Regions from separate parts of the Homo sapiens genome. Here all the other regions are linked to region 5. Evidence: fine-mapped expression QTL. A gene starts in region 5. Each other region holds a variant in brackets. All regions are shown on one strand. Distances are from middle to middle.

Region 1 (5,101 bases), 23 kb after region 5:
CCCTATGCTTACCTTGGGTTTTCTTTTTCTGACTTCTTAAAGTGAAATCTGGGCTGGGCACAGTGGCTAACGCCTGTAATCCCAGCACTTTGGGAGGCTGAGGTGGGCGGATCACGAGGTCAGGAGATCGAGACCATCCTGGCAAACACTGTGAAATCCCACCTCTACTAAAAATACAAAAAAATTAGCCGGGCGTGGTGGCGGGCACCCGTAGTCCCAGCTACTCGGGAGGCGGAGGCAGGAGAATGGCATGAACCTAGGGGGTGGAGCTTGCAGTGAGCGGAGATCACGCCACTGCATTCCAACCTGGGCAACGGAGTAAGACTCCATCTCAAAAAAAAAAAAAAAAAAAAGTGAAATCTGAGATCACTGATTTGAAGCATTTTTCATTTATTGCTAAAAATTTATAAGTAAAACCTTAGCTACATTCTACAAATTTTGACTTGTGCTTTCATTTTCATATAGTCAAAAGATTTTCTAATTTTCTTGTGATTTTTTTCTTTGCTCCATGAGTAATATACACGTATGTGGTTTAATTTCCAAAAACTTAAGATATTTTAAAATATCTTTTTATTATCGAATTCTAATTGAACTGTGGTTGTCTGAAAAAGATTTTTAGTTCATCTCTCTTTTTTTTAAGAGTCAGGGTCTTGCTCTGTCACCCAGGTTGGAGTGCAGTGTCATGATGGTAGCTTACTGTAGTCTCTTAACTCCTGGGCTTGAGCAGTCCTTCTGCCTTAGCCTCCTGAGTAGCTGGGACTACGGGTGCTTGCCAGTACACCTGGCTAATTTTTAAAATTTTTTGTAAAGACAGGATCTTGCTATGTTGCTCAGGTTAGTCTCAAACTCCTGGTCTCAAGTGATCCTTCTGCCTTGGCCTCCTAAAGTGCTGGGACTACAGGTGTGAGCCACTGCACCTGGCCTCATCTTTGTTTCTGAAATATATTTTCATTGGTATAAAATTCTAGTTTGACAGTTTTTGTTTTTTTTTTTTTTTTGAGACAGAGTCTCACTCTGTCACCCAGGCAGGAGTTCAGTGGTGCAACTCGGCTCACCGCAACCTCTGCTTCCCAGGTTCAAGCGATCCTCGTGCCACAGCCTCCTGAGTAGCTGGGACTACAGGTGTGCACTACCACGCCCAGCTAATTTTTGTATTTTTAGTAGAGACAGGGGTTTCACCATGTTGGCCAGGATGTTCTCAAACTCCTGATCTCAAGTGATCTGCCCGCCTTGGCCTCCTAAAGTGCTAGGATTATAGGTGTGAGCCACCGTGCCTGGCCTGATAATTTTTTTTTTTTTTAAAGTACTTTAAGGGTTTTTTTTCCCACTGTTTTCTGGCTTACATTGTTTCTAATGAGAAATCTGTTCCCATACTTGTTTTTTTGTCCTTTGTAATGTATCTTTTTTACTCTGATTGCTTTTAAGTAGATTTTCTATTATTGGTTTTAAGCATTTTGGTTATGATGTGCCATGGTATAGTTTTCTTCATGTTTATTATGCTTGTGGTTCATTGATTTCCTTAGATCTGTAGTCCTCCTCCTTATCCTGCTTGGAATCTGATACTCCATGCAGGCTACCGCCACTCCCCACTTGACACTCCTCACATGAATGCACATTATCAGATTTGTTTTTTGCCAATAAGATCAGTAAAAAATGTTATCTCAGGCTAATTTTAATTTGTATTTCTAATGTGATACCAGGTATTTTAGTTGTCTAAAAACGATTTGTATCTCCTTTTCTGTGAACTGTCTGATCATATGCTTTGTTCTATTTTTGTATTTGTTTGCTGATCATTTTTATATTAATTTATATGTAACTTTTACCTTTTCTCTAATAAGCATGTATTTTTGGGGGGACAATAAGAAGATACCACATAAAGTTATTTTTAATTAAAAAATAACTTCAAAATCCATGTAGTTTCCTGGTCTAAAATATTCAGGAGCTCATGGTGGCTAGCATTTTATCATAGCTCCTTCTTATATAGGGGCTTACTTTCACTTCTGTTTGTGGTGAAACCTGCATAGCTAACAGGATGTATGTGAGCTTAAAGGCCTGAGAATCACTTTGGACTGCCTATCTTTTACCAGGGCACTGAAAAAAAAATCACCAACTCTTATATCTGTAAGGAGTTCAGCTCTATCTTAGTCATCACTTCATTAGATCTTCCAGTGGCCCTGGGAGGCTGACAGGTCATTGACAATGATCCCCATTTTATAGATTTGAAACTGAGGCGTAGAAAGGTGAAGTGATTTTATCAAACAGAAGGTTAGACTTAGAAGTACCTTAAAGATCATTTAATTTTACATATTTGGTATCCTACAATTAGTAACTAGGGTAAAGTTTTGGCTTGGATCCAGGTGCTTTTTTTTTTTTTGAGACGGAGTCTTGCTCTGTCACCCAGGCTGGAGTGCAGTGGCACGATCTTGGCTCACTGCAAGCTCTGCCTCACGCCATTCTCCTGCCTCAGCCTCCCGAGTAGCTGGGACTACAGGCGCCCGCCACCACGCCCGGCTACTTTTTGTATTTTTAGTAGAGATGGGGTTTCACCATGTTGGCCAGGATGGTCTCGATCTCTTGACCTCGTGATCTCCCGCCTCGGCCTCCCAAAGTGCTGGGATTACAGGCGTAAGCCACCGCGCCTGGCCAGGTGCTCTTTCTAATGGCAGCAATCAAAGTGAGGACCACTATCACTCTAAATGGTCAAGGAGCTTCTCTTTCTCAGGAGACTGCAGGCCAAGCCTTTGACATGCCATGGTTGGGCAGGCAGACGGGTGATGCTGGAGCTTAAGGTCTATCTATGCTCACCTTTGGCAGCAGTCAGCATGGTGGAGGCCAGTTCACACTGCTGTGATTCCAAGTGTCCAAGCGTGAACCAGCGAGGATAACGGCTGGGCACCACAGACA[C/T]CATATGGTGAGGGTGGGATGTGTCGCCTGCAGAAGCTGAGTTTTCTAAAACAGGTAACCTGGAAGACCCAGGAAGAATCATCAGCCACCATCCAGACCCTGGGCTTCCGAGCCACCTTAGAGAAGCTTGCTCTTTGCTGGGGAGGAACTGGGGAGAGGAAAGGATTAACTAAGAGCTTTGAAGGTTTTTAAACCTATGGTACTATACACTATATGAGGTGAGTGCCTGGGCACTTAAGAGTACTCAACGCTGAATAGTTTCCACTACAAATGGATGTGAAAGGCCGTTCAAGAGCTATCGGGTTGAATAGTATGATATATTGTAAAAAGAGAGAAAAGTTAATACATTTTTAAAAAGAATCATAGGGTTGTTTATTTTATTTATTTTTGAGACAGTGTCTCTCTCTGTTGCATAGGCTGGAGTGTAGTGGCATAATCACAGCTCACTGCAGCCCCGACCTCCCAGGCTCAAGCGATCCTCCCACCTCAGTCTCTTGAGTAGCTGGGACTTCAGGTGTGCACCAACATGCCTGGCTAATTTTTGTATTTTTTGTTTTTGTAGAGATGGGGTTTCACCATGCTGCCCAGGCTGGTCTCAAACTCCTGGGCTCAAGCAATCTACCTGCCTCGGCCTCCCAAAGTGCTAGGATTATAGGCTTGAGCCACCGTACCCAGCCTGGTTATTTCTAAAAGTATAAGAAATACATGCCAAGGAATTTCCTGTTTTAGCTAAGGTATTCTCCCAGCCTTACAGTCTGACTAAAATTCTTCTTCTGTATAGTCTGCTACATCCCAGAGGTTTAACTGCCTAAACCAAGGATCCTATTCTAGCCTGGAAACAAGATGCCCATAGCTCATTGTTCTCAAGTCTTGGGGTAAACATATTTATCTCTACTTCCCCCAGCTTCTTCTGGGGACCTGTGCCTGGGAACCTTGACTGAGTTGAACTACAGAAGGGCTCAGACCCCTTCTCAGCTTGCCTGAATAACCACTGAACAGGAAGACTCAGGTCTTAAGTGCTCCTTATTTATTAACATCTCAGGGGCTTCCTCAGACAATCAACCATGAGTACTGCCAGGGAACCAAGTCACCAACAAGGAATCCAGATATGAATCCTAGATCATATAAAAATATCTGAGCCATTTTAAGGTACACTTGGTAGCGGGTCCAACAGAATGACAAAGAGGGAAAGAAAAGAAAGTGAAATAAGCAATGAAAAAGAGCACTGGACACTTCTGCTTTGGTGGAGGCAATTGGACTGGGAAAGGGCTACCCACCTCATGGCACGTAAGGCTAATTTATAGGACAGGTCTGGATCATGAGGCAGCAGAGCTGAGAACAAATACTTGGCAAAGGTATGCATGGGAACACTCTCTCGGTGGATGACTTCTCCCAGACCGCTGAAAGGACCTCCTGGAGGAAGATAAGCCAGCCAGTTATTTATCTGTATGCTTCCATCTGCCAGCCTGGACTTGAGCCCCAGTATCTCATGCATGTTTGCTAATCATGGGAACCTTCATTCACTACATTTTAATGTCATAAATGTTCCTGTACTTGTACTCTATTGGAGAGGGGAGCTCAGGGTCATGGGCCAAAGACACCGTGACAAGAGACTCTTTTCTACTTACCTTCCAGCAGTAAGATGCATTGTTTTTGCAGTGTTTGCACTAGCTCATCGTCCAGCTGCAGCTCTTGGAGTTGGCTCAGGAGCTGCTCCTCATTACGGCATACCTTGTCCTGTGCGTAGAGGCCTTCAGGCATTAACCTCTGTTGACCCAGGCCCATCAGTGCAACTTCCAGGGCCAATGACAGGTAGGACTCACTGCTGTTTGGGGAGCCTGCAGCCACAGGTACATGCTGGTACACAGGGGGTCTGCTTTCATTCATATCTGAGGGCAACAGGGCACCAAATTCTTTAGGTTAGGCTTGGTAGAGTCTTCTTTCTTTTTTTTTTTTTTTTTTGAGACAGAGTCTTGCTCTGTTGTCCAGGCTGGAGTACAGTGGTGCAATCTCAGCTCACTGCAGCCTCCGCCTCCCCGGTTCAAGCGATTTTCCTGCCTCAGCCTCCCAAGTAGCTGGGATTACAGGAGCATGCCACAACACCTGTCGAATTTTTGTATTTTTAGTAGAGGGGCGGTTTCATCATGTTGGCCAGGCTGGACTCAAACTCCTGACCTCAGGTGATCTGCCTACCTCG
Region 2 (5,101 bases), 190 kb before region 5:
TTGGAGGGTTTTGTGCAGGACAGTGATGTGTGATCAGATTTAGTTTAAAAGAATAATTTGGGCTGGGCATGGTGGTTCCTGCCTGTAATCCCAGCACTTTGGGAGGGTGAGGTGGGCGAATCACTTGAATCTGGGAGTTTGATACCAGTTCGGGCAACATGGCGAAATCCCGTCTCTACAAAAAATACAAAAATTAGCCAGTGTGGTGGCACGCGCCTGCAGTCCCAGCTACTTGGGAGGCTGAGGTGGGAGAATTGCTTGGATCTGGGAGGTGGAGGTTGCAGTGAACTCAGATTGCGCCACTGCACTCCAGCCTGAGATTGTGCCACTGCACTCCAGCCACTGCACTCCAGGAAGACCCTCTCAGAAAAAAAAAAAAAAGAATTTGGCCGTTATGTGGAGGACTGGAATTGAGAAGGGCAAGAGCGAGGTAGAAGAGTGGTCTAGGGAGAACAGTTAGGGGCTATTGCAATTATCCAGCAAGAGATCTTGGACCAGGATGGCAGCAGTGGAGGTGGTAAAATGTGGTTGGATGAAGCGTACGCTTTGAAGGTATCAACAGGACCAGCTGATGGAAGGGAGTCAACAGGACTAGCTGATGGCTGTAAACTGGGGGGTCACTAGCTATCAGATGGCATTTACTTAAAGCCATGGAAGTAGGTGAGCTCCCTTATGGAGAGGGAATAGGAAGGAGGTAGACCATTCTATCAAAATGCTCTTTCTACAGGGCACTTCTCACTGAGATATTATTTATCTGGGATTTATATTATTTATTCAATTTGTTTTGTGTTTGGTTCTATTAGAAAAGCTCCATAGGGGCCGGGCACGTTGGCTTTTGCCTGTAATCCCAACACTTTGGAAGGCCGAGGCAGGCGGATTACCTGGGGTCAGGAGTTTGAGACCAGCCTGGCCAACATGGTGAAACTCTGTCTCTACTAAAAACACAAAAATTAGCCGGGCGTGGTGGTGCGCCTGTAATCCCAGATGCTGAGGAGGAGAATCGCTTGAACCCGGGAGGTGGAGGTTGCAGTGAGCCGAGATCGCGCCACTGCACTCCAGCCTGGGCAACAAGAGCGAAACTCCCTCTCAAAAACAAACAAACAAACAAACAAACAAACAAAAAACAAAAAAAAGAAAGAAAGAAAGAAAAGGGCCAGGTGTGGTGGCTCACACCTGTAATCCCAGCACTTTGGGAGGCTGAGGCAGGCGGATCACGAGGTCAGGAGATCGAGACCATCCTCACCAACACGGTGAAACCCCGTCTCTACTAAAAATACAAAAATTAGTCGGGTGTGGTGGCGGGCGCCTGTAGTCCCAGGTACTCCGCAGGCTGAGGCAGGAGAATCGCTTGAACCCGGGAGGCGGAGGTTGTAGTGAGCCGAGATTGAGCCACTGCACTCCAGCCTGGGTGACAAAGTGAGACTCCATCTCAAAAGAAAAAAGCTCCATAGGAGAAGGAACCTTGTCTCTTCACCACATAAACTGTGTTTGGATTCGCAATCGAGTTGGGAAAAAAAAATCAGTCTGGAAGAGCCACACCAAACCGCTAACAGCTACTGTCTCTGGGAATAGAACAAGGAGTTTGGTTGGCGCGATATACCGCCCCTGAACCTCTAGCCACAATAAGGCTTAATTAATGACCGGACGACTTGAAAGCGCCTTCCACTGTTTATCTCTTAAATCTGCAACGAAATGCAACAAAAACGCAAGAAATAAACAATAGAAGCCAGTCTTACTGCACACTGCAGAAGCCAATAAACCCCAAATGTAGCTCAAAACAAGGTGTCACGCAAACTTCTGATTTTTTTTTGTTTTACACTGAATCTCTGTCACTCTGACTAGAGGGCAGTGGCGCGATCTCGGATCACTACAACCTCCGTCTTCTAGAGTCAAGAGACTCTCCCGCCCCAGGAGTCTCTGCCACTCTGACTAGAGGGCAGTGGCGCGATCTCGGATCACTACAACCTCCGTCTTCTAGAGTCAAGAGACTCTCCCGCCCCAGCTTCTCCAATAGGTGGGATTGCAAACAGGCACCACCACGCCCGAATAAGTTTGTGAACATTTGGTACAAATAACAAATGACCAAGTTCCTTGGTTGTAGTTGCCTAACTTTTAATACTTAAAAA[T/C]GTAGCCTCAGGAAATAAGAGGCCTCAAAAAATTGAATAAAAACTCACAACTTTCTCTCCACGGAAATCTTTAGTAAAAGGCGAAAGATTTATGCGCTTTGAAGAGAAACCCGAGTATATTCGTGACTTCCGCTTCGAACCTCGCAGGGAGAACTAACACTTAACACACTTATGGTTGTTGGATGCCTGCGTGGTACGCACTCCCTATATGTAGTTTATGCACACAGATGCGTGTAAGAGGCATCATGCTCTAAAACAGTGCAGAAATGCGCGCACAGAGGGAGTGCAAGCATCTTGAGGGTATCTTTTCGTGGTGCACCATGGGTATGCAAATCACAGGCGGCTCCGGGCTGTTCCGCGCCACCGGGGAAGCCATGGGTCACTGATCTCCTTTGCTCTCCTATGCTCCTCTCTGCTGGTCCTCCTGGGACCCGCACCCCGTGGGCGGCGCCGGGTGCGGAGTCCTTTGCGGAGCTGGTGTTCGTCCCAGGGGTTAAGGTCCTGTCCCGCCGTCCTTACCCGCAGTAAGCCTCCGGGCTTAGAGAGAGGGACGGGGAAACAGACGGGCACAGACACTCAGGGGCACTGGGACCTCACAGGAGGCACGACCCCACCCCTCCTGGAGGAGATGGCATCCGATCCAATTCACCTCGAAGGGTGATATGGGGTCACATCAAGGGGAGGTGAGAAAGTGTTCTAGGCAGAGGGAATGGCGTATGAGAAATTAGGGACCCGAAGACCAATTCAGCCTGTCCAGACAGTGGCGCTCCGTGTGTCTGATGAGGGGGTGCTGGGGTGGGAGGCAGAGGCTAGATCTCCTCGGGCCTGGAAAGATGAAGATGAGGAGGCTTAGTGAGGCTGGCTAACTTGCCCAGGGTTACTCCGCTGGTAAGTGGCACTGAGGGCTGACCCCCTTTGCACTATTCTGGCCTGGTGAGCTCTCTCTGCTCCACCTAGAAGGCCCTTCTTGGTGACCCAAACACTGCTGGACCCAAATGCAGCCTCCCTCCCTTGGGCCTGCTGGTTGCACCCCCTACTCTAGGTTCTCTGCCAACTACCCGCTTCTCTTGAGCTTTTTAGGCATTTTAGCGTGGATTCAATTGCAATAGGCGTTTTTTGTTGTTGTTGTTTTTGTTGTTGTATCTTTTGGTCAGAACATGATTTCCTGGCCTTTGTCCAGGTGGGGTGGGATGTGAGAACGCATTGTTCCTGGGGTGGGATCATTCCTGGTGAGTGGGTGGTTGGAGCCCAGGGTCTATGTGAACTAGACTATGGGTCCTAAGCTATGGCTGGGAAGGGGCAGTTGCAAACCTCCCCACGCCTCTAGGTGAGGCTCTGTGCTCTATTCCAGGGCTGTGGCCACTCTTCAAGGCCTCTGCTTAGTGGAGCTGTTCAACTTTCACAGAACAAACAACTTACGCTGTGTCCTCACTAACTGCTAGCACCTCAGTTTCTGAGCAGTTCCCGCAACTGATCCACTGGCTGACTGGCCAAAGACACCTCTCGGCTGTCAGGACAACCAACTTACAGAGGCCTTTGCCTTGGAGGTTGCTCTGGAACCTGGCTCCTTTCCCTGGGTCCACAAACCTCCTGAGAAGCTCCCCAGACCCTGTTGACCTCTCTCTGCTTCAACTGGCTGCTTTCCTGATCTGCCTCCACCTCGCCTTCCACCTGCTGCATGGCTTTGCCCCTCTGCCTTGCCGTTTCCCGTGCGGGTGAAGCAGGTAGGTGGAGGTGAGTCTGGAGAGACGGGCAGGCTGGAATATGGTGGCTCTGAAAGCCACACAGTGGGGTTCTTTTTTTTCTGCTCTCGGTCTCCAGATTGAACCCAGTAGGATTTCACACCAACAAAATTTGTTATCGTTTTGTATAGTAAGCACTTAATCCAGATGATGTTACCAAGTATATGACAAAAATCCAGAATCTGGGGTCTTTTCCACCCAGAACTAGAGAAGCTAATACCTCAGGTCCTGGCACCAGAGAAGCTCCTTCCAATAGCTAATGTTCACTTGCAAACTCCCCACTCTGTCCAAAAAAAAGCACTGAAGTCATCTGAGATTAGTTCACATAGAATATATTTCATTCTTTAAAAAATAAAACTTTCATCATAGCTAACATGTATGTATACTACAAAAATAGACATTTTCATATAAATAATGGATGTGGTAGGAGGTGGGCAGGGATATGGAGAGCCTGCCCAGGAGTCACCAGACGGAAGGGTGCTGGAGGGTCCCTCAGGCTTGGTCAGCTGGGCAGGCAGTGGTGTGGGGTGGGAAGGGGGACAGGGCTGCACTGCAGCCCCAAGTGCCAGCTTTCACTCTCAAGTGACACAGATACAGGCTCACACAGGCCTGGATGTGCAAATCGGTGGCTGTTCTGTATGGATATCAGGGAGGCCCATGACAGCTGGGTCGGGAGAGGGGATGCAGCAGCAGCAGGGCCCTCCAGGGGTCCATCCTGCGTCTAACACCAGACCCAGTGCTTCCCAGTGACCCCACACGCCCCACACATGGTCTCTGTGCTTCAGCTGCTCTTTCACCCAGTGGCTGGACCTGGTCCCCTGGAACTGAGGTTGCCAGAGCTAGTGGCAGCAGGGGACCAAGGGGGCTCATCAGGGGCTGGATGGATGTAGGCACCAGGCAGGGGGGGTGGGTGGATGGCCACGGTCATGGAGGTAGTCACTCTGGCAAAGCTCTGGGGCAGGGAGGAGGATGCCCCCCACCTAAGCCCGCCTCCCTGTGGAGCTGGTGGACTCAGGATCTCTGGGCTTTCCTTGTACATCTGTATCACCTGTGGGGAGACACCAGCCCCAGTAAGCCCACGGGCCCCTGGGGCTCCCGTCCCCTTTAGCATCTCGCTGGGGATTACCATGACTGTTGGGAAGCTGGGGCCCTTGTTGGTCTCCAGCAGGATATGAGAGCTGGCAGGCGACAGGATGTTGAGGCCTGGGGCAAACCCTGCACCTTGTTCTGGAT
Region 3 (5,101 bases), 93 kb after region 5:
GCAAATCAAAACCACAATGAGATACCATCTCACACCAGTTAGAATGGTGATCATTAAAAAGTCAGGAAACAACAGATGCTGGAGAGGATGTGGAGAAATAGGAATGCTTTACACTGTTGGTGGGAGTGTAAACTAGTTCAACCATTGTGGAAGACAGTGTGGCGATTCCTCAAGGATGTAGAACTAGAAATACCATTTGACCCAGAGATTCCACTACTGAGTATATACCCAAAGGATTATAAATCATGCTACTATAAAGACACATGCACATGTATGTTTACTGCAACACTATTCACAATAGCAAAGACTTGGAACCAACCCAAATATCCATCAGTGATAGACTGGATTAAGAAAATGTGACACATATACACCACGGAATATTATGCAGCCATAAAAAGGACGAGTTCATGTCCTTTGCAGGGACATGGATACAGCTAGAAACCATCATTCTGAGCAAACTGTCACAAGGACAGAAAACCAAACACCGCATGTTCTCACTCATAGGTGGGAGTTGAACAATGAGAACACCTGTACACAGGGCGGGGAACATCATATCCCAGGGCCTGTCGTGGGGTGGAGGGCAGGGGAAGGGATAGCATTAGCAGAAATACCTAATGTAAATGACGAGTTAATGAGTGCAGCAAACCAACATGGCACATGTATACCTATGTAACAAACCTGCACATTGTGCACATGTACCCTAGAACTTAAAGTATAATAAAAAAAAAAAAACTGTGAACTATGTATTTTATATTTCTGTTACCTAACAGTCTGGCATAGAGTAAACATTTATAAAAGTGTTTGCTGAACTGAATTGCTTAAAATCATTCAATGGTTCTCCACTGATTACAAGATAAAGTTCAAACTTCTTACAATATGATTTCTTTCTATCTCTTCAGACTTGCTTCATACCACTCTCCCACATTCCAAACACACCAAACTATTTGCAGATTCTTGACTATGCTGTTTTCTCCATTTTCTTATCCTTTATGCCTTTGCATGTGAAGTTTCCTATACCAGGCATGACCTTCTCATTTCCTTCTCATGCTAATTCTTGACTCAAATGAGCCCCTACTCTGGGAAGTCTTCCCTCATCTTTTTGGACAGCTAGTTAAGTGCTTCTTCCTAAGCACTCATTTTTCATCAGTCATATCTCCATTATAGTACTTGACATCAATGTAATTGTCTTCACATTTATCGTTTCCCTTTAGATTGTGAGTTCCTTGAATAAGGGAGTTATGTATATCTTTTTCATCTCTATATTTTCATCTCAGGCACATGGTAAGGACTTAATAACTGACTGTGTATGGATGAATGAATAAATGAACACTAAACTGAATCTTTTACATATTTATATCTACAGTTCACAGAGGATTAAGCATGTTTATAAAATTCCTGATTTGTGATTAAAATAAGCCAGTAATTAAATAATTTTACTGAGACGGTGAGCAAAGTAACAATAATTTGTATATTTGGTATAATATTGAAACACCAAGATTATTTTCCATAATGTATGTATATAGATTTTTAAATTATTTATTTATTTATTTATTTGGTGGGGGTACAGGGTCTTGCTTTGTCGCCTAGGCTGGAATGTACTGGCATGATCACGGCTCACTGCAACTTCGACCTTCAGGGTCAAGTGATCCTCTCACCTCAGCCTCCCAAGCAGCTGAGACCACAGGCATGCGCCACCAATACCTGGCTAATTATTATTTTTTTAATGTTTGTAGAGATGAGTCTTGCTATATTGCCTAGGCTGGTCTCAAACTCCTGGTCTCAACTGATCTTCCTGCCTTGGCCTCCCAAAGTGCTGAGATTGAAGGTGTGAGCTGAGCCACCATGCCCGGCTCATAATTGATATTTATGCCTGTTATGCTTCTGCCAATTTTTATAACCTATTTTCAAAAATATAAAATACAAGCAGTTTTTATCAGCCAACATTTACTGGATATACTTACTACATGACAGATAGTATTCTAAGTGCTTCCCATGTATTAACTAATTAACTAATTAAATGCTCAAAGCAACCCTACAAAGTAGATTCTGTTGTTATTTCCCTGTTTCCGATAAGAAAACTAGGATAAGAGAGATAGAAGAACTTGTCTAAGATCACACAACCTGTAAAATGTAAAGTTGGGATCTGAACACAGGTAGTCTGGCTCCAGAGCCTATATTCTTAAGGACTACAATATATTAAATATGACTCTGAAGTTTAAATTTGTATACAAAACTTTGTAAAGGTAATTAGCAAGTGTAATTCTACAAAGACAGAGAGTCCTGCACTAATAACAAGTCAGTAAACTCTGACATTTGCCTGTTTTCCTGGGCAAATGTTCAAGGTAACTGAAACTGACAAGTGCTGTGATGCTCTCATAGTTGGAATGAAGGTGGGCTCATGAACTCATCT[G/A]TACAAGAAAATGTATCAGGACATGAGTGAATCATCTGCTTAGAGTTCTAAAGGAAAGCACTTCTCAGTGCAGCCCTTTGACACCATTCAAAGCCTTTTGTTTTTCTGAGTGCAAGAAAGGCTCTAGTAAAGCTTGGGCAATTAAAACCACTTTTCTCATTGCTCTTTTGATTCACCAGGCCCCTAGGCAGGTGTTAATGCATGAAAATGATTATCATTTCAGCCAATAGCAGGGAAAAGAAGAGATGTGGTTTATGAAAAGAATATTTTTTCTTATAGTCAGTTAAAAAGGATATGCAAATATATAAACTAAGTAACTTCTTTGACTGAGAAAGCTTCCTCTTGAATAAATTTGGTTTTGATGAAACTGCATAGTATAAATTAGACCTTCTCACTTAATTCCTGTCTCCCGGAAGGCCACAGCAGTATACCAGCAGAAGTAAAGCAGCCACTCTTTCTCTCCTTTTTGTCACTTAGCAAAACAGTAACCAGAACAATTAAAACAATGAGAGTGACATCTATAAAATAACTAATTTCCTTTCCAGAAAGCCTTTCTCAAAAGCTGGGTAACAACTGCCTAAACAAGAGCACTGGAATGGCTCCATATACTATCGATACAAACAGATTAGGAATCAGAATGCTTGAGTTGTAATTCTAGTACCCCTCAATTCCTCTTTGCCTCAGTTTCTTAATTATGCAAATAGACATAATACTACTTAGCTGCCTATCAGACTCATGTGAAAGTAATTTGTAAAGAACACATTTCCCAAAGATATCATTCAATAGCAATCCCAACTGGCCACGCCTGGGGCCTATATAAGTTCACAAGAAGCAGATGGTGCCCAAACACTGGGTGAGGGTGCGAGAGATTGCAAAGTGAGGAGCAGTATTGTTATTTGGGAATACAAATGATGCTGCCCCATTACCCTGAGAACTACTTGGTTTGTTTGTATTATAGAGGTCACCCTAAGCTTCTCAGAGCAGCTGAGTAAGCTAGAGGGCCCTTCTTGCGGCCATCTGCTCCCCTCCCAGACTCCTCTGGCAAATCAAGTGGTTTTCCCTGTATTAACCTCCGAAGAACAGCCATTGGCCCCCCTCAGCACCAGCTTCAGCAGCCAGTGGTCTCTGTTCTCCATCTGTACCAGAAACCACAGTTCAAGAACAATGAGGCTTCCGAAGCCCAGGTATTCACTTACAGCGATAACCTTGCATTTACCTAGTTTTCTAGTGTTCTTTCACTTGTGCCCCTACAAGGAAATTAGATGTGTATTTTAAAAGACTGAGATCTTCGGCTCGCCGCAACCTCCCTGCCTTGGGCTCCGGTGATTCTCCTGCCTTGGCCTGCCGAGTGCCTGGGATGCCAGGCACGCGCCGCCACTCCTGACTGGTTTTTGTATTTTTGGTGGAGACGGGGTTTCACCGTGTTGACCAGGCTGGTCTCCAGCTCCTGGCCTCGGGTGATCTCCCCGCCTCAGCCTCCCGAGGTGCTGGGATTGCAGACGGAGTCTCGCTCACTCATGCTCAATGTTGCCCAGGCTGGAGTGCAGTGGCATGATCTCGGCTCGCTACAACCTCCACCTCCCAGCCGCCTGCCTTGGCCTCCCAAAGTGCTAAGATTACAGCCTCTGCCTGCCTGCCACCCCGTCTAGGAAGTGAGCAGCGTCTCTGCCCGGCCGCCCATCGTCTGGGATGTGAGGTGTGCCTCTGCCCGGCCGCCCCGTCTGGGAAGTGAGGAGCGCCTCTGCCCGGCCGCCCCGAATGGGAAGTGAGGAGCGCCTCTGCCTGGCCGCCCCGTCTGGGATGAAGTGAGGAGCGCCTCTGCCCGGCTGCCCCGAATGGGAAGTGAGGAGTGCCTCTGCCTGGCCGCCCCCTCTGGGAAGTGAGGAGCGCCTCTGCCCGGCCGCCCTGTCTGGGAGGAAGTGAGGAGCACCTCTGCCCAGCTGCCCCGAATGGGAAGTGAGGAGTGCCTCTGCCTGGCTGCCCCCGTCGGGGAAGTGAGGAGCACCTCTGCCCCGCCGCCACCCCATCTAGGAAGTGAGGAGTGTCTCTGCCTGGCTGCCCATTGTCTGGGATGTGAGGAGAGCCTCTGCCCGGCCGCCCCGTCTGGGATGTGAGGAGCACCTCTGCCTGGCCGCCCCATCTGAGAAGTGAGGAGCACCTCTGCCCGGCCGCCCCGTCTGGGAGGAAGTGAGGAGCGCCTCTGCCCAGTTGCCCCAAATGGGAAGTGAGGAGCGCCTCTGCCCGGTTGCCCCGAATGGGAAGTGAGGAGCGCCTCTGCCCGGCCGCCCCGTCTGGGAGGTGAGGAGCGCCTCTGCCCGGCCGCCCCGTCTGGGAGGTGAGGAGCGCCTCTGCACGGCCGCCCCGTCTGGGAGGTGAGGAGCGCCTCTGTCCGGCTGCCCCGTCTGGGAGGTGAGGGGCGTCTCTGCCCGGCCGCCCCGTCGGGGAAGTGGGCGCCTCTGCCCGGCCGCCCCCTCTGGGAGGTGAGGGGCGTCTCTGCCCGGCCGCCCTGTCTGGGAGGTGAGGAGCACCTCTGCCCCGCCCCCTCTGGGAGGTGGGGAGCGCCTCTGCCTGGCCGCCCATCGTCTGGGAGGTGGGGAGCGCCTCTGCCCGGCTGCCCCGTCTGGGATGTGGGGAGCGCCTCTGCCCGGCCACCCCATCTGGGAAGTGAGGAGCGCCTCTGCCCGGCCGCCC
Region 4 (5,101 bases), 270 kb after region 5:
AACCTCTTGAGGTGAGAAATTTGAGGCTGCAGTGAGCTATGATTGTGCCGCTGCATTCCAGCCTAGGTGTAGTGGCACAATCGTAGCTCACTGCAGACTCAAAGTGGCACAGCCATTATATCTAGGGATTTTCTTTCTTCCTTTTCTTTTTTCTTTTTTTTTTTTTTTTTTGTTGTTTTTTGAGACAGAGTCTCCCCTGTCTTCACTCTGGAGTGCAGTGGCACCATCTTGGCTCACTGCAACCTCCGCTTCCCAGGCTCAAGCTATCCTCCCACCCCTGTCTCTTAAGTAGCTTACAACAGAGCAAGACTCTGTCCATGAAAATATAAATAAATGGCTGGGTACGGTGGCTCACGCCTGTAATCCCAGCACTTTGGGAGGCCAAGGAGGATGGATCACCTGAGGTTAGGAGTTCAAGACCAGCCTGGCTAATGGGGCAAAATTCCATCTCTACTAAAAATACAAAAGTTAGCCAGGTGTGGTGGTGCGCACCTGTAGTCCCAGCTACTTGGGAGGTTGAGACAGGAGAATTGCTGAACCCAGGAGGCAGAGGTTGCAGTGAGCCGAGATCACGCCACTGCATCCCAGCCTGGGTGACAGAGTGAGACTCCGCCTCAAAAAAAATAAAAAATAAAATAAATAAATAAAAATTTTTAAAAATTCAGGCCAGAAGTGATGGCTTACACCTGTAATCCCAGCACTTTGGGAAGCTGAAGTGGGAGGATCACTGGAGGCCAAGAATTCAAAACCAGACTGGGCAACATAATGAGACTCTGTCTCCACAAAAAAACAAATACAAAATTAGCTGGGCATGGTGGTGGGTGTCTGTGGTCCCAGCTACTCTGGAGGCTGAAGTAGGAGGATCACTTGAGCCCAGGAGTTTGAGACTGCAGTGAGCCATGATCATGCTACTGCACTCCTGCTTGTGTTACAAAGCAAGACACAGTGTCAAAAAAAAAAAAAAAAAATTACTCAAGCCCTGTCCCACACAATGTGGAAGTCTGTGCTAAAAAACTTTGTGTTTTGTATATTCCTTGGAAAAATCTCGTGTTCCCCTTATCTCTGCTTCTCCTGTTCTCCAGCTCATGATGACTTCTCTATTTGACCTAAGGTTCTTCCTTGGACCTTCCCATCTTCTCATTTATTCTCCTCACTGACCCCCTCTCTCCAACTTTCTCAGGCCTATTCCCCCAGGCTGCCCCAAACTCCAAATTCCTCTCACTTCTTCCTTTCTTGAGCAGAGCAATTCTGCTCTCTTTATCTCATACCTCCCCCTCCCTTCCTTACCCCTCCCAAGAATCACTGGCTGTTTCCTCAATAAAAAGAACCACCTGGCCAGGCGCGGTGGCTCACGCCTGTAATCCCAGCACTTTGGGAGGCTGAGGTGGGTGGATCACTTGAGGTCAGGAGTTCAAGACCAGCCTGACCAACATGGTGAAACTCCATCTCTACTAAAAATACAAAATTATCTGGGCGTGGTGGCGCATGCCTGTAATCCCAGCTACTCGGGAGGCGGAGGCACGAGAATAGCTTGAACCCTGGAGGTGGAGGTTGCAGTGAGTGAGATCATGCCATTGCACTCCAGCCTCGGCAACAAGAGCGAAAAAACAAACAAAAAAGAACCACCTATCCGTGCTGCGAATGTTGTCCCTTCCCTGGAAGTGATAATAAGCCAGGAATTATCTTTCTGAAGAGCAACATTTTTCCTTCCCACTATTACATAGAGAAAATCATTCCTTTACCATCACCATCTGCCCATCCTCTGTGCCTCTCCATACACTGTTCCCTCTGCCTGGAACACCCCACACAATCCCCAGCACCGTCACTTGGCCCATCCATCATACGAAACTTCAAGTCTCCCTCAAACATTACGATCCCCAGCACCTCTTACATTTGCTGACTGAATAAATAAGTAAATTATGTCTTCTCAACTCTCAAATACAAACAGCATTCATCTCTGCAAAAAATCTTCAGCAAAAATAAAGCAAAATTGGCTCAGATTTAATCTCACGGGCCTCAAATTTTGAGCTACCCTTATCAGTAGTTTCTCCTCCTGCTGCTTTATTTCTAGAATTGTTATTAGCTCCTCCAAGGTGAAAGTTAGCCAAGACTGGATCATACTTCCCTTT[C/T]CTTCCTCATGTTCATTAACTCCTTTAATTCCTGTATTTCCAGGATGGAGCACGCTGCTTGTCAGAAACACAGCTGTTTCCCTGTGGTCTCTGTACCATTTTGTAAGACCTTTTTGGCATTTTGGCATTTGCTCAACATTTGTGGGTTTGCTTTCCTTCCTTTGCAAGTGAAATAGCTTCAATAGTAGCTAATAGCTAACAACACAATTCTTCTGATTTCTTAAAAATTATACTCTAGATCATTTGGAAAAGAGCTGCTTTCACATCGTAAGTAGCAAATTTAGAGAAAGGAATGCTCACATTTATCGAGATGTGGTCTTAAGGTAAAAACAGGTAACTATGCACTATGGCACTAATACTTTAATAATTATTTGTGTTGTTGATTCTAATGCTATTTTCCCATAGCATTCCCATATACATTGCAGATTAGCAAAGTAAATATTTCATCAGCCCCAATCTTCTAGAAAATGTCATATGTTTAACCCCTAACATATTGGTCATTTTTGTTGTTTCCCTTTTCAGTATTTTATAAAAAACATTTTGAAGTGTTTTCACAAAGTTTACAATTTCCTTTTTCTTTTCTTTTCTTTCTTTCTTTTTCTTTCTTTCTTTCTTTCTTTCTTTCTTTCTTTCTTTCTTTCTTTTTCTCCTTCCTTCCTTCCTCTCTCTCTTTCTTTCTTTCTTCTTTCTTTCTTTTTTTGATTTTGAGATAGGGTTTCCCTCTGTTACCCAAGCTAGAGTGCTGCGATCATAGCTCACTGCAACCTTGAACTCCTGGGCTCTAGTGATGCTCCTGCCTCAGCCTCCTGAGTAGCTAGGACTACAGACACATGCCACCATGTCTGACAAATTTTTTAAATTTTTTTTTGTAGAGGCCAGGCACTGTGGCTCACGCCTGTAATCATAGCACTTTGGGAGGTCTATGCAGGCAGCTCACTTGAGGTCAGGAGTCTGAGACCAGCCTGGCCAACATGGTAAAACCGTGTCTCTACTAAAAATACAAAAATTAGCTGGGCATGGTAGTGTGTGCCTGTAATCCCAGCTATTTGGGAGGCTGAGGCAGGAGAATCGCTTGAATCTGGGAGGTGGAGTTTGCAGTGAGCTGAGATGGCGCCACTGCACTCCAGCCTGGGCAACAGAGCGAGACTGCATCTAAAAAAAAAAAAGGGGGGGTTGTGTTTTATAGAGACAGGGTCTCACTATGTTGCCCAAGCTGGTCTCAAACTCCTGGCTTCAAGCGATCTTCCCACCTCAGTCTCCCAAAGTTCTGGGATTACAGGCAACAGCCACTGTGCCCAGACTCCTTTGCCCATTTTTAAATTTAGTTATTGTTTTCTCACTATTAGGTTGTATGAGTACATGTTCTTTAATTTTTTTCCCTTGCAAATCAACACAGAATGAACTGAATAAACACCAATGGGCATCCAAATTAGCATGAAGAGTCAGCATTTTCAGCATAACTTAATGGTGGCTATTGGATCTCAATTGTAATAAATTTATAAAATATGCATTTTGTCACCACTATCAGCAACTTCATTTTTCCATTTCCCACTTATTTATATAAAATACCAGTAAAATGCACAAAAAAATCAAATAGCTGTACAAATCATCTTGTACTGACAAAGTTGGCAAAACCAGAATTGCTTAGCACAGTATGAGATAAAAATGTTCACTTATCAGCAGATGTGCAAACATTCAACATGCTTTATTTAGGCCGGGTGCAGTGGCTCATGCCTGTAATCCCAGCACTTTGGGAGGCTGAGGCAGGTGGATCACGAGGTCAGGAGATCAAGACCATCCTGGCTAACACAGTGAAACCCCATCTCTACTAAAAAAAAAAATACAAAAAAATTAGCCTGCCGTGTTGGCAGGTGCCTCTAGTCCCAGCTACTTGGGAGGCTGAGGTAGGAGAATGGCGTGAACCCAGGAGGCGGAGCTTGCAGTGAGCAGAGATCGTGCCACTGCGCTCCAGCCTGGGCGACAGAGCCAGACTCCATCCCAAAAAAAAAAAAGCTTTATTTAGAGATATCAAAGTGTAATGTACAAAATTACAGGTTGTAATTAAGTCAAGAACTACCCCTACTTCTCTTTTGACCATCTTTTTTAAAGTTAATGACACTGGTTGGTGGAGCCAAGATGGCCGAATAGGAACAGCTCCCGTCTACAGCTCCCAGTGTGAGCAACACAGAAGACGGGTGATTTCTGCATTTCCAACTGAGGTACCGGGTACATCTCTCTGGGGAGTGTTGGACAGTGGGTGCAGGAGAGTGGGTGCAGTGCACTGAGCATAAGCTGAAGCAGGGCGAGGCATCGCCTCACCCGAGAAGTGCGAGGGGTCAAGGAATTCCCTTTCCTAGTCAAAGAAAGGGGTGACATACGGCACCTGGAAAATCGGGTCATTCCCACCCTAATACTGTGCTTTTCCAACGGTCTTAGCAAACGGCACACCAGGAGAATATATCCTGCGCCTGGCTGGGAGGGTCCTACACCCACAGAGCCTCCCTCATTGCTAGCACAGCAGTCTGAGATCAAACTGCAAGGCAGCAGCGAGGCTGGGGGAGGGGCACCTGCCATTGCCGAGGCTTGAGTAGATAAAGCGGCCAGGAAGCTCGAACTGGGTGGAGCCCACTGTAGCTCAAGGAGGCCTGCCTGCCTTCCTTTGTAGACTCCACCTCTGGGGGCAGGGCATAGCCAAACAAAAGGTAGCAGAAACCTCTGAAGACTTAAATGTCCCTGTCTGAAAGCTTTGAGGAGAGTAGTGGTTCTCTCGGCACGGAGTTTGAGATCTGAGAACAGACAGACTGCCTCCTCAAGTGGTTCCCTGACCCCCAAATAGCCTAAATGGGAGGCACCCCCCAGTAGGGGCAGACTGACACCTCACACGGCCGGGTACTCCTCTGAGACAAAACTTCCAGGGGAATGATCAGGCAGCAACATTTGCTGTTCACCAATATCAGCTGTTCTGCAGCCTC
Region 5 (5,101 bases):
GGAAATGCCAAGACCAGCACTGGCTGGGTCGGCTCACCTTAATCTCACTGAAGGTGCCCAGTGTGTGGTCCCAGGCAGGTACCAGGTGGTGCAGGACACTATCGAGGATCTTGATGAATCTGGCATGGGTAGATAGACTGCAGCTAAAGAGTTTAGCATACCTGTAACACCCCCAACTCCCCAACATAAAGGGACAGGAAAAGGCAGGACCTGGGGGCTTCTCTGACCCTTGAACAGCTTATACTATGAGACCTTGGGAACCTCCTCCATGCAGACACACAAGGCTCAATGTTGGGGGAAGGGAAGGGCCCATAGGTCCAGGACCACAGCCACCTCTGCAGGAGGACAGCTCTGCGGTACAGTACTTCAGGGTCGGTGCCTTCTAGGCGTGGATATCGCACCAGACTAGTTGGCTGGAACAGGTCTGCATTCAACCCTAGTTCCCGCTGTCTAGATGACTTGATCTTGACCCCTCGGAGACGAACATCAATCCCATCATCTGGGGGAAGGGGTCAGAGTAAGGTCATTTACAGCACCTGCTGCCTCCTTGGCCCTCAGACCTGGGACCGGCTCCTTGAACGCTCAGCCTTGTGTCACCGTTAGCCCCTAGAAACTCGGGACCTTCGGGATCACCTTCTATCACCTGATTCTGATTGATCTATTCCTGCTGATTCCTCTGTCTTCCACTAGAATGCTGGGATGCCTGAGGGTCCCAACTCAGTTCCTCTTCCAGGTGAGCCCAACCACCTGTATGGCTTTAAGGCAGGCCTATACCTGGCATGTCCCAGCTGGCTCAGGCCCCAAAGCTCCAAATCCTGGAGTTAGTTCAGCATCGCCTTCACCCCAACTCCAAGCCCATCCTCTTCTCTCCACACACACTCTCTGTTTGCCCCCATCTCCACGCCGGGCTCTCTTTCCCTCCTTATAGCCTTAAACCTCACCTCGGCACTCCACGATGCGGATCTCGATGATCGGGAGGTGGACGGTCATGTCCTCCAGGACACAGACATCCCCGATGAGGGTCCTGAGGAGATGAGTGTGAAGCACTTCAGATACCTCCTGCCTCAGGCCTTCAGAGACTGCTGGAGTCTCACTCAAACTTAGGCTTTCAAGCTGGGCTAGGCTTGGAACATGCCCTACTTCCCTCCCCAGGCCAGCGTGCTCACTCGTCAATGCTCACGTCACTCAGCTTCTTCAGGTTGTCCCCTTCACCCCCATAGACCACCACCCGCTTTGGCATAAAGTTGTCATCTGTGGTATCCACTGTGAGTAGCAGCTTCCTGAAGGGTCAGAGTGTGAATATGAGTCTTTGTGAACCCACAGGGACATAGCCCACCCACCCTGTCCTGCCCAGAGCCTACTTACTTGACAATGGTGCCCTTCTTCATAGTAAGCCGTACCCAGTGTTGGCACTGGGACCCATCGCTCTCCCAGTAGGTATCGGCATTGCTGTCTGTCAGGCAGGACACGTTGAACTCCTCCTGGGGAGGGGCAGAGACGTGAAGTCAGCAGTTACCCTCCCTCCCTGCACTGGGCTTGTGCTCTGGGCCAGGAGCACCAGAGAGAAAGCATAGTGAAGTTGGGCTAACAGGCAACTGGTATGGGATAGGGGGCCGCTGGGTATGTAAGGGGTCCTATAGACGTCCAAGATGGGGAGCTGAACTGAGTGTGGCCTGTGGGGACCCTGTTTTAGTCCTGGCCTGCAGGTGGGGGTTCTTTCTGGATCTAGCCTTGAGGGGTGTGACTATATCTTGCCTGGGGTGGGAGGAGCCCCAGCACCCACCGTGTAGGAGGAAACGTCTATGCTCTCCACATACTGCTTCACGCTACCCAGGTTCTCATCCTCCTTGCCCAGGTGGTCATACAAGAAGTGGATCAGGTCCTCGTCGCACTCGTAGGTCCATGTCGGGGGTACATAGCTAAGCAACCCCAAGCCCCTAATTAGACTGGGCCCAGACGCAGAGCTCCTTCCTCCCCACCCCATTCCAGCTCACTCACAGTAGCCTTTGTACAGCTTCTGCGTATGCCTCTGCCGGCTGAGGTCTCGATCCCAGGCGATGTGAGTATGTCAGGTCCACCACCTGTTCCCACCTGTGGGCACAGAGTAGGGAGTGGGATGGGGAGACATCAGCGGTCAGCAAGACACTACCTCCATGCCGTGTAGCCTTCTTCAGGGCTCTATCTCCCAGTCTCCCTCCGAGCCCCCTTCACGTCCCGCCCCTTTCTGCTCTTAACCCTGCCTCCGCTCCAGTATCCCACCCACCCCAGGCTGTGGCTGAAGTGTTCCCAAGCCCTCCTGGCCCGGCCTTCTGACAGCCAGCCCCGCTCCTTCAAGTGCAGTACCTGAGCACCGGCCGATAATCCACGCCAAAGAGCTGCTGCTGCCGCTGGAGGTGGTTGGGAGTGTCGATGGGTACCAGGCGGGCTCCGCCCTCCGCCGGGCGGCACACCAGCAGCCAGCCTTCCTGCAGCCCGCAGTCGCCCAGGTGCTCTGCCAGCTGCTCCTGCCGGGACGCGTAGGATGGGGACAGCCGTCAGGGAACTGCCCAGCCGCCTGTCGTGCCCAGCCCAGGGCAAAGGGCGCCGAACGCAATGCCAACTCAATACAGGGGAGAAAAGGCAAACAGCCAGAGGTTTCTCTGGCCCCAGGGGTCTTTTACCGGGTCCTGGGCAGGGAAGAGCGCACCTTTGTCAGCTTCACCCAGAGCCCGTGGCCATTGCACAGCTCCTCGCCCGTGGTGCGCACGCAGGCGCCGCGCCGGAGCTCAATGCTGTCGCGGGCGGCGCGGAGGGGCCCGGAGCCGGTACCGGGGGCTGGGCCTGCGGCGCCCACACGCAGCCCCAGGCCCTCTGCCTCCCACACCGGCAGAAGCACGCGCGACGGTCCCGCTGGGTCCTTGTAAAGCTTGTAGAGCACCTCTCGCGGCACGAAAGCCAGCGCTGCTGGCAGCGGCCGCCCGGCGCGGAGGCTCCGCGCTGCCTCTGCCAAGAAGCGCACGCGGCCCAGCAGCTGCCGGGGGGACTCCAGCACCGCGCCCGGGCCAGGACCCGCCATGGCGAAGTGGCGGAGGTGAGCACCTAGAGGCGACCCTGCCCGGGGAACAGCTGGCGCGACCGCGGACAGAGCTTCCCACCACGCCCTTCCCCGCCTTTGGCCAGCCTTTGCCGTATGTTCTGGACTAAGCGCACCCCAGCTCTCACTGTATTGGACTGTGTACTCCCACACTCAACCATATTACTTATCTCTGTGCCACCCTAACCCAGCCGACCAAACCCAAGATTGGTGATTGCTACCTGATCAATCTCCCTCTCTCCATTTCCTTGTGACTACCATTTTATCTCTACTGCTACTACCCTCATTCAAGTCACCATTCTAGCTAGCCTGGGTCATTGCCAACAGTCATTTTTCTGGTTCTTCGGCCTGCTGTTTTTCCTCCCACTCCCAGCGAATCTGCTGGACTCCCTATCCTATGGGTGGTGTGATTAAAGTGTTTGAGACAATGGCCCCTTCCCCTGCCACTGACAGGAGTCTTGAGTCATTAGGGTTGATTCTGTTTGTCACTCCTAATCCCAAGGACACTGGAGATCATTATTCATTTTAATGTGATTGCTGATTTCTGTTTCCCCAGTCTTGTAGCTCCTTAAAGGCTGGGGCTGTCTTGAGCAGAGCTAACCTCTGCACCTACTATAGGTCCAGGCTATAGTATGGACCTGGCTGGATAAGACTGTTGGTATCATGAGTGGGACTTGCGCCAAGCCTCCGGATACCCAGACTGTCAGATGAGAACAAATTCCTCATGTCACCGTAAGATACATTTACAGCGGAGTTTTCTTTTGGGCCTTTGTTGTTGCGTCGCTACAGCAAACTTTACGGTGAAAAAAGGTAGGGGTCCTACGGGCAGCAGCCAGGGCAGCCCTGGAGCTGTCGCTGGAGTCCGATCATGTGATCTTCAACATGGCGACGCTCTTGGTTCCCTACAGAAAGGGGCGGAGCCTGGACTGGGGGGCAGGCTCAGATTCAGGTTAAATTGTGGATTGAGCTCGCAGTTACAGACAGCTGACCATGGAAGCGAATGGGTTGGGGTGAGTTCTCCAGAGCACGCGGTGTGGCTAGCCGGGCTTCTAATTTGAGTCTTCCAACTCAGGACTCTATCCCTCTACTCCCCTTTCCCCACCCTGGAGACCTCCCAACCTGAACTCCGTTAGCTGGGATCCTGAATCCTAAAACCATGGATTTTTGAGATGTTCATCCCAGGGCCTTAATTCAAGGGATGCCTCAGGATTTCCAACCAGGATCTCTATTCTGGGACCATCAACTCTGATCCCTCTTTATCCCCCAGCCTGGGTATTTCTCAGCCCCTGAACCAGCCCAGTGACATTCCCGTTTCTGAGGCTCACTAGTTCGAAGACCCCCAAACTATCCTTAGTGGGCCTTCATTCCCTCCCCCCAGTCCCTCTGGTTGCTTCGAGCTTGGAAGAGTAGAGACTAAGTGGAGGGAAGAGGCCCCAGGGCGGGCCCTTCTGGAGTTTGTGCACCACCTGATAGGCAGAGAGGAGGCGGAACGGGCGGAAAGCCAGGGTTTGGGAGCTGGCCTGGAGGAGGTAGATAGCGGTCCTGGACTGAATCGGCCTTATGAACCCGCGCTTTCCCCAGCCTCCAGCGTAGCATACTGACACCTACCCCCACCCCCACCTGATCGCCAGACCTCAGGGTTTTCCGGAGCTGAAGAATGACACATTCCTGCGAGCAGCCTGGGGAGAGGAAACAGACTACACTCCCGTTTGGTGCATGCGCCAGGCAGGCCGTTACTTACCAGGTAAGAGTCAGGGTCTGGAAATCTAGATAAAACTCCGGAGGGAGAAAAGTTTTCGAGGGGCAGGGGAGGGCTCTGGAGGGCCTCAAGGCTGAGCCCTGTCTTCCCTCTGTATGCAGAGTTTAGGGAAACCCGGGCTGCCCAGGACTTTTTCAGCACGTGTCGCTCTCCTGAGGCCTGCTGTGAACTGACTCTGCAGGTGAGGGGTCCACAAAAGAGGGAAAGATTTATGCCTTCAGTCTGCCACCTAGCAACCTGTCTCCTGTTTCCTACAGCCACTGCGTCGC

Direction of the effects. Alleles are on the strand shown, and positions count from the first base shown. SD is a standard deviation of normalised expression in the study named. Not every link is listed here.
In carriers of allele C in region 1, the expression in testis of the gene that starts at base 3,122 in region 5 tends to be higher than with T alone (large effect, 0.78 SD a copy in GTEx).
As copies of T replace C in region 2, the expression in skeletal muscle of the gene that starts at base 3,122 in region 5 goes up (large effect, 1.7 SD a copy in FUSION).
With allele A in place of G in region 3, the expression in whole blood of the gene that starts at base 3,122 in region 5 is lower (moderate effect, 0.41 SD a copy in GTEx).

The links.
Region 1: its variant is fine-mapped to the expression of HECTD3 in testis (GTEx, PIP 0.94).
Region 2: its variant is fine-mapped to the expression of HECTD3 in skeletal muscle (FUSION, PIP 0.95).
Region 3: its variant is fine-mapped to the expression of HECTD3 in whole blood (TOPMed, PIP above 0.99).
Region 4: its variant is fine-mapped to the expression of HECTD3 in whole blood (TOPMed, PIP above 0.99).

The regions. Positions count from the first base shown.
Region 1 is chr1:45,031,507-45,036,607 of GRCh38, forward strand. It overlaps ZSWIM5 (zinc finger SWIM-type containing 5), which reads right to left. Exons shown (of 14, transcript NM_020883.2): 9 at 4,533-4,793; 10 at 4,182-4,317; 11 at 2,806-2,963. Among named protein-coding and RNA genes, the nearest start is that of UROD, 22 kb to the left of the region's middle. The variant C/T (reference allele first, on the strand shown) is at 2,905.
Region 2 is chr1:44,817,754-44,822,854 of GRCh38, forward strand. It overlaps PTCH2 (patched 2), which reads right to left. Exons shown (of 22, transcript NM_003738.5): 22 at 4,185-4,916. The coding sequence ends at 4,662. LOC107984952 (a long non-coding RNA gene) reads left to right here and starts at 2,726. Exons shown (of 2, transcript XR_001738036.3): 1 at 2,726-2,809; 2 at 3,478-4,241. It also overlaps the pseudogene RNU5E-6P. RefSeq lists enhancers at 1,346-2,002, 1,817-1,916, 1,947-1,996, 2,003-2,659, 3,316-3,973 and 1 more and a silencer at 1,907-2,626. The variant T/C (reference allele first, on the strand shown) is at 2,127.
Region 3 is chr1:45,101,321-45,106,421 of GRCh38, forward strand. All of the region lies in intron 1 of ZSWIM5 (zinc finger SWIM-type containing 5), which reads right to left. Among named protein-coding and RNA genes, the nearest start is that of UROD, 92 kb to the left of the region's middle. The variant G/A (reference allele first, on the strand shown) is at 2,411.
Region 4 is chr1:45,280,313-45,285,413 of GRCh38, forward strand. No RefSeq gene overlaps it. Among named protein-coding and RNA genes, the nearest start is that of LINC01144, 21 kb to the right of the region's middle. The variant C/T (reference allele first, on the strand shown) is at 2,130.
Region 5 is chr1:45,008,203-45,013,303 of GRCh38, forward strand. It overlaps HECTD3 (HECT domain E3 ubiquitin protein ligase 3), which reads right to left and starts at 3,122. Exons shown (of 21, transcript NM_024602.6): 1 at 2,687-3,122; 2 at 2,344-2,504; 3 at 1,999-2,091; 4 at 1,784-1,919; 5 at 1,366-1,481; 6 at 1,167-1,280; 7 at 942-1,024; 8 at 334-499; 9 at 38-119. The coding sequence starts at 3,055. UROD (uroporphyrinogen decarboxylase) reads left to right here and starts at 4,052. Exons shown (of 10, transcript NM_000374.5): 1 at 4,052-4,083; 2 at 4,705-4,817; 3 at 4,934-5,013; 4 at 5,090-5,101. The coding sequence starts at 4,064. RefSeq lists silencers at 2,789-2,958, 3,039-3,168 and enhancers at 3,929-3,978, 4,019-4,148.